Linked DNA regions of Homo sapiens. The protein of the gene in region 2 purifies or fractionates together with the protein of the main gene of each other region. This does not show direct contact. Each region holds a gene or a part of one and is shown on either strand. Other genes may lie near its edges. The genes, in order: HMGXB4 and BPTF.

Region 1 (3,920 bases), on a different chromosome or scaffold from region 2:
TACTATGCTGTGCCTGTAAGATACTAACAGCATCTGCAGCAGATGGGATTGAGATAATAGATATAATATACTTGGGATGGTGCTTAATACATGGTTAAGTACTCAAAAAATATCAGTAATTATGAATATTACTACCAACATCTTGATCTTCAAAACTGCATTTCTGGCTGTCTTTTGGGTCTCTCCTTTTGGATATTTCTCCATCTCAACTTCCTGTAAGGAAGAATAACCTTCCCATGCAAATCTAGCCCTCCTTTGAGCATCCATTTCTCTGCCAAAGTCACCACCATTCACATAACTGCCCAGTCTCAAGGCCTAGCCATCACTGACTCTTCCTTTCCCTCATCCTCCTTGTCAACATCTCCCCCCTATACTTTCTGAGGGCAGCAGTACAGTAAGAGGTTAAGAACCCGGACCTTGAGGTCACATTCCAAATTCAAGTCTCTATTTTACCACTTAGGGGCTAAACTCTAGAGAAAGTGACTTCACCTCTTTAAGTCTGTTTATTCTTCTGTAAAATGGGGGGAACAAATTCTGCCTCACAAAGCTGCAGTGTGAATTAAATGATATAATTCATATTAAGCACTCTGAACCAAAGCTGGGTGAGTGAGCCTTCAATAAAACATTAGTATACAGGGAAGATAATAGCTAAAACCCCAAAAATGTCAGTAATTAGTAATATTGTTCCATTTCCTTTGCCCTATATTTATTTATAGCTAATTTATCTTTGTCACATCTAGACTAGGATTATTGTTTTAACTTCTCCCCAATTCTGGTCTCTTTTCACTTCCAATCTAAAATAAAAGATATTCTCAGAGAAAAGTAAATGAGAGCTCTGATCTCATCCCTTTCCACTGTAAAAACCCCTGTAGTTCCCCAACAGTGAAGTATACACACTTCAGAATGTCTATGAAGTCCCTCTGCAATTTGGGTTCTAGCTTTAACTTTCTTAAGATACACACACACCACACGCCACACACACGCACAATTTTTATTTTTATTTTTTTTGAGACAGGGTCTCACTCTGTTGCCCAGGCTGGATGGAGTGCAGTGGTGTGATCTCGGCTCACTGCAACCTCCACCTCCCGGTTCAAGCGATTCTCCTGCCTTAGCCCCACAAGTAGCTAGGATTACAGGTGTGCACCACCACAACTGGCTAATTTTTGTATTTTTAGTAGAGATGGGGTTTTGCCATGTTGGCCAGGCTGGTCTCGAACTGCTAGCCTCAGGTGATCCTCCCACTTTGGCTCCCAGAGTCCTGGGATTACAGGAACAAGCAACAGTGCTCGGCCTCTAGCCTTAATTTTCTAACTTATGCATTGTATGTTCCAGTTTTACTGCTAAAATGATGAACATTAATTTACTACTGAACATATTATTTTGATAATTATATGTCCATTACGATGTACATTAAAAAAATAGAATATAACCCTTGAGATGTCATGAATGTCACTGTAAAAGCACAGACAAGTTTATTTAAATAAAATTATAAAGTAAGTAAAAGTATTAAGTGGTATGTGGAAATTATAAAATTGCAGAGATCTATGCAAATGATTAAATTCGGGCCAAAAGTGGATTAGAGGGAGAATGGGGAATAACTGCCAATGGGTACAGGGTTTCTTTTTTTTTTTTTTTTTTTTTTTGAGGCGGAGTCTCGCTCCGTCGCCCAGGCTGGAGTGCAGTGGCGCAATCTCGGCTCACTGCAAGCTCCGCCTCCTGGGTTCACGCCATTCTCCTGCCTCAGCCTCTCACAGGCGCCCGCCACCACGCCCAGCTAATTTTTTGTATTTTTAGTAGAGATGGGGTTTCACCACGTTTGCCAGGATGGTCTCGATCTCCTGACCTCATGATCTGCCTGCCTCGGCCTCCCAAAGTGCTGGGATTACAGGCGTGAGCCACCGCGCCTGGCTGGTACAGGGTTTCTTTTAGGGGTAACAATATGTTTTGGAATGAAATAGTAGTGATTCACAATTCTGTGAATATATTAAAAATCACTAAATTCTGCACTTTAAAAGGGTGAACTTTGTACTTACTAAACTAAATGGAAATATCTGGGAAAATTCAGAATACGCTTAAAACAAACTGTTTTTACTTCTAACTTCTTACGAAACGTAAGAATGATTAAATCTGAAAAATAAGTAAGGTCATAGAATACTTCTTCTGGAAATATCTATATCCATTCAGATATCGAGCCTATATGAAGGTGCTGAAGTTCTTTTGACTACTGCTAAAATTTTTAGAAACTAGCCAAAGAATTTAGATATAGCTTCAGCTCTTGTGGCCTTTGGCATTTTATTTGTTGAATAATTCAATTTCCACATTGAAGCAAGTGATTAGTTTTACATTCCTACACTAATTTCTTAGCTTAAAAATGGCTTTAGTAGCTTAGACTGACTTCTTTGCTGAAATGTCTTACTAGAACTTGGTGGAAAGCGGAACTACTATACTAATGAGTTAGCTAAGGGGACAATATTGTTAGAAATTGAATATGGTAATAGAAATGAAACACGACAGCTGTGCAGGTTAAGTGATTTTTGAAATTGAAGCTTAAAAGGACAAAAATCTCCCCAGGGCATATAGCACTGTATAATTTAAGTGCAGAGTAATGGAGAGCTGGGAACCTTAACTTCTCCATTTGTTACCTATTTTCAAAACAGAGGAACTCTTAATCTCCTATACAATTGAATATTCAAGACTTTGCTGGAAATGCAGAGAAAAATTCAAAGTCTCTTAGAAGGAGACAGAAGTAATCAAAACTGCTATGGAATTTGTACTCATCCTTTTTCTTGCCTTTTTGTTTTTGTTTTTTTAAAAAAGATAGGGTCTTGCTCTGTCACCCAGGCTGGAGGGCAGTGCAGCAATCATAGCTTACTGCAGCCTTTGAGCTCCTGGGCTCAAGCAATCCATCTGCCTCAGCCTTCCGAGTAGCTGGGACTACAGGTGTGCACCACCATGCCTGGCTAATTTTTTAATTTTTTGTAGAAATGGGGTCTCGCTATGTTGCCCAGGCTGCTCTCCAACTCCTGGCCTCAAGCGATCCTCCTGCCTTGGTCTCCCAAATTGCTGGGATTACAGACATGGGCCACCGTGCCCAGCCACCACTGCGTTTTTCTTTCTTTCTTTCTTTCTTTTTTGTGATGGAGTCTTGCTCTATCGCCCAGGCTGGAGTACAGTAGCGCAATCTTGACTCACTGCAACCTCTGCCTCCCAGGTTCAAGTGATTCTCTTGCCTCAGCCTCCCGAGTAGCTGGGACCACAGGTGCATGCCACCACACCTGGCTAATTTTTGTATTTTTAGTAGAGACAGGGTTTCACCATATTGGCCAGGCTGGTCTTGAACTCCTGACCTCGTGATCCGCCTGCCTCAGCCTCCCAAAGTGCTGGGATTACAGGCATAAGCCACCACGCCCGGCCCCATTTTTATTTCTTTTAAATTTTTTGAATATATGTATTTTTTGAGATGGAGTCTCACTGTGTTGACCAGGCTAGTCTCGAACTCTTGGCCTTAAGCGATTCTCCCAGGTGGGCCTCCCAAATTAGCATTACAGGCGTGAGCCACTGCGCCCAGCCTCCACTGCATTTTAAAAAAATAAAAATAAGTTACAGGGTACTCCAATTTCTTTTTGTGCCATTGTTTCAATAGGATATCATTAGTGAAACTTTGAGAGCTAACAGGTAGACTGAATATCTCTATAGATATTTCTGTTATTATCATTATATCTTCTATGTTACGCCATCCTGAGAACCTGGCATAATTTAGCATAAAGTAGATGCTCAATACATGTATGTAAAATGAGTGAATGAATCAAAATTATATGGGAAACTATATGGGAAACTGTAGTCATGCTGCTGATAGTTGTATTCACCTCAGTTTCCTGCAGACGGTGTCCAATGAGGCTTAGGGACTCTCCCAACAGCTG
Region 2 (3,920 bases):
GCAAAATGATGTTATTAAAGTCTAATACCAGGATCATAAAGCCACTAGTACAGAGATTTTGTTCTTAATTCTGGATTCCCATCTTTGTACATACACTAAATGGTTTGCATGTAAAAATGCATTATACTTAGATATGCATAGAGCATGTCGGTGTGTTTCCTTGATTTCAAACCATTTGAATGAAGAACGGTTCTGTGCAGTTACCTGAAAGTAAAAGAACCTTAACAGCAACCCGGATTTATATTTTAGAACCTCAATCAGAAACAAAATTGGAAAAGTACTCTTTTGTTCTTTATGAATTGCAAAATAACCTCCAGGGTGAACCAGCCTGGCTCCAGGACTGCTTGCACAGTAAACATATATACTTGTTAGAACTTCGGAGAATATTCACATTGGAAAAACCTTAAAGCTCTGAAAATGTTTTACATTTTGTGTTTTTAAGACCTTGCCACCATGGAAGAAAGAGTACAAAGACGATATTATGAAAAGCTGACGGAATTTGTGGCAGATATGACCAAAATTTTTGATAACTGTCGTTACTACAATCCAAGTGACTCCCCATTTTACCAGTGTGCAGAAGTTCTCGAATCATTCTTTGTACAGAAATTGAAAGGCTTCAAAGCTAGCAGGTGAGCAGATGGGTTCGGTATTCTGAATTAATTCAACTCTTCACACTCTTTATACTATTCTGTCTAACGATTCAACCAGTGCAGTTTATGGTAAATTTAACCTTAAATATCTTTAAAAAAAAAATAAATAAATCAAGACTCCAGGGTTATGATCTACTGCCAAGGAGAAGTGGACAAATTGCTGGGTTTGTTGTTGATCTACTTAAAGTCTTTTTTTGAAAATTCAAGAAGTGGCCGGGCATAGTGGCTCACGCCTGTAATCCCAACACTTTGGGAGGCCAAGGCAGGCAGATCACCTGAGGTCAGGAGTTCGAGCCCAGACTGGCCAACATGGGGAAACCCCGTCTCTACCAAAAATACAAAAATTAGCCAGGTGTGGTGACGCACGCATGTAATCTCAGCTACTTGGGAGGCCGAGGCACAAGAATCACTTGAACTTGGGAGGCGGAGGTTGCAGTGAGCCAAGATCACACCACTGCATTCCAGCCTGGGTGACAATGAGACTCTCACAGGAGGTGGGGGGAACATCCCAGCCTTGTCAACATAATGAGACCATGTCTCTACAAAAATTTAAAAAATTAACCAGGCATAGTGGCATGCACCTGTAGTCCTAGCTACTCAGGAGGCTGTGACAGGACGATCACTTGTGCCCAGGAGTTCAAGGCTGCCGTGAGCTGTGATTACACCACTGCTCTCCAACCTGAGTGACAGAGTGAGACCCTGTCTCAAAAAAAAAAAAAAAAAAAAAAAAAAAAAATAAGAATAAAAGAAGAATTTCCTGAGCTGATGATTGTCACAGGACTTTAAATTCTAGCAGAATAAATTCCTTCACTCAGCAAATAACTTTTGAGAACCTGATGTGTGCCTGATACTGGGAATTTAGCAGTGAATAAATTAAAGCCCCTGCACTCTATGAGGGGTGGGTGGAGCAAGGGGGACAGTTGATAAACATCATAAACCAGGTAGACAAATGGAAAAAGACTCACCCCTACATACATCGCTATAAAATTTCCAAATGCTAAGAATAAAAGAAACTCTTAGATAAAACCGACAATCTATAAAACAAGAATTAGATTGGTGTCAGATTTTTCTGCTGTGACATTTAGTGCTAGAAGATTATGGAAGAATAAATCTAAAAGTTTAAGAAAAAATGATTGTCAGCCTAGAAGTCTGTGCAGCCAGTCAAGTTTAGAGGCAGAATAAATATATTTTCAGTCATGTGAGGACTCAGGGCATCCTTTCTTGGCAGGTATTTTTAAAAAGTGTGTGCTATTGGCCAGGCATGGTGGCTCACGCCTGTAATCCCAGCACTTTGGGAGGCCAAGGTGGGTGGATCACTTGAGGTCAGCAGTTCAAGACCATCCAGACCAACATGGCAAAACCCCATCTCTCCTTAAAATACAAAAATTAGGCAGGCATAATGGTGCACGCCTGTAGTCTCAGCTACACAGGAGGCTGAGGCATGAGAATCGCTTGAACCCGGGAGGCACAGGCTGCAGTGAGCTGAGATTGCGCCACTGCATTCCAGCCTTGGTGTCAGAGTGAGACTCCATCTCAGAAGAAAAAAAAAAAGTGTGCTGTCAAAAATAAGGAAACAAATTTTTTCCTTTTAATAATGTATCTTCCTGTAATCCCAGCACTTTGGGAGGCCGAGGCGGGCGGATCACGAGGTCAGGAGATGGAGACCATCCTGGCTAACACGGTGAAACCCCGTCTCTACTAAAAATACAAAAAAATTAGCTGGGCGTGGTGGCACATGCCTGTAATCCCAGCTACTAGGGAGGCTGAGGCAAGAGAATCACTTGAATCTGGGAGGCGGAGCTTGCTGTGAGCCGAGAAGGCGCCACTGCACTCCAGCTTGGGCGACAGAGGGAGATTCCATCTCAAAAAAAAAAAGTATCTTTTTTTTTTTTGAGACGGAGTTTCACTCTTGTTGCCCAGGCTGGAGTGCAATGGCGCGATCTCGGCTCACCACAAGCCCCACCTCCCGGATTCAAGTGGTTCTCTTGCCTCAGCCTCCCTAGTAGCTGGGATTACAGGCATGTGCCACCACGCCCGGCTAATTTTGTATTTTTAGTAGAGACCTGGTTTCTCCATGTTGGTGAGGCTGGTCTCAAACTCCCGACCTCAGGTGTTCTGCCCACCTCGGCCTCCCAAAGTGCTGGGATTACGGGCGTGAGCCACCGCACCCGGCCATGATGTATCTTTTTATTTAGGGACAGGGTCTTGCTATGACCCAAGCTAATCTTGAACTCCTGAGCTCAAGCGATCCTCCCACCAGCCTTGGCCTCCCAAAGTGCTGGGGCTGTGAACCACTGTGCTGGGCCAGAAATATATATATATATATATATTTTTTTTGAGACAGAGTCTCACTCTGTTGCCCAGGCTGGAGTTCAGTGGCACAATCTCGGCTCGCTGCAACATCTGCCTCCTGGGTTCAAGCAATTCTGCTGCCTCAGCCTCCCAAGTAGCTGGGATTACAGGCAGCCACCACCATGCCCAGCTGATTTTTGTATTTTTAGTAGAGACGGGGTTTCACCATGTTGACCAAGCCGGTCTCAAACTGCAGACCTCGTGATCCGCCTGCCTCAGCCTCCCAAAGTGCTGGGATTACAGATGTGAGCCACCGTGCCCGGCCAGAAATTTTTGTTTATTTGAGTTCAGAAAACAAGTGGTTCAGGAAAGCAATGAGAATTACTCTGACCCAAGATGACATTTATACAGCAGGCTGTAAAATGTCAGCAGACCAAATCCTAGCAGGAGAATGGAGCACTCCCCAGAGGCTCAGTAGAGCAAGAAAATGACTCATACATTAGATAATTTGTTTAAGACAGAAAAACATAAGGCTATGATTAAGCCAAAGAACGTCAGGGATAAAAATGAAAGGCAATTAGAAACGCCACTAAAAACAGAAAGTTGTGTAAGTGTACCCTGTTAGCTGGGCACGGTGGCTCATGCCTGTAATCCCAACACATTGAGAGGCTGAGGCAAGAGGATGCTTGAGCCCAGGAATTCTAGACCAGCCTGGGCAACATGAGGAAACCCCATCTTTACAAAACACAAAAATTAGCCAGGCATGGTGATGTACACCTGTGGTCCCAGCTGCTTCAGAGGCTGAGGTGGGAGGATTGAGCCCATGAGGTAGACGCTGCAGTGAGCCATCTTCATGCCACTGCACTCCAGCCTGGAAGACACAACAAGACCCTGTCTCAAAAAAAAAAAAAAAAAAAAAGGCCCTGTTAGCAAAGGACTAGGTGCTACAGAGAAAAATATTTACATTTTCGTAGTAAC

What was found.
Region 1: the proteins of BPTF (region 2) and HMGXB4 fractionate together in Homo sapiens (co-fractionation; 3 studies listed by BioGRID, with this or other methods). This does not show direct contact.

What each region holds. Positions count from the first base shown.
Region 1 is NC_000022.11:35,288,354-35,292,273, reverse strand, and holds part of HMGXB4 (HMG domain-containing protein 4), read right to left. Parts: coding exon 3,867-3,920; intron 1-3,866. UniProt on the Homo sapiens protein: Negatively regulates Wnt/beta-catenin signaling during development.
Region 2 is NC_000017.11:67,975,330-67,979,249, forward strand, and holds part of BPTF (nucleosome-remodeling factor subunit BPTF), read left to right. Parts: intron 1-442; coding exon 443-629; intron 630-3,920. UniProt on the Homo sapiens protein: Regulatory subunit of the ATP-dependent NURF-1 and NURF-5 ISWI chromatin remodeling complexes, which form ordered nucleosome arrays on chromatin and facilitate access to DNA during DNA-templated processes such as DNA replication, transcription, and repair.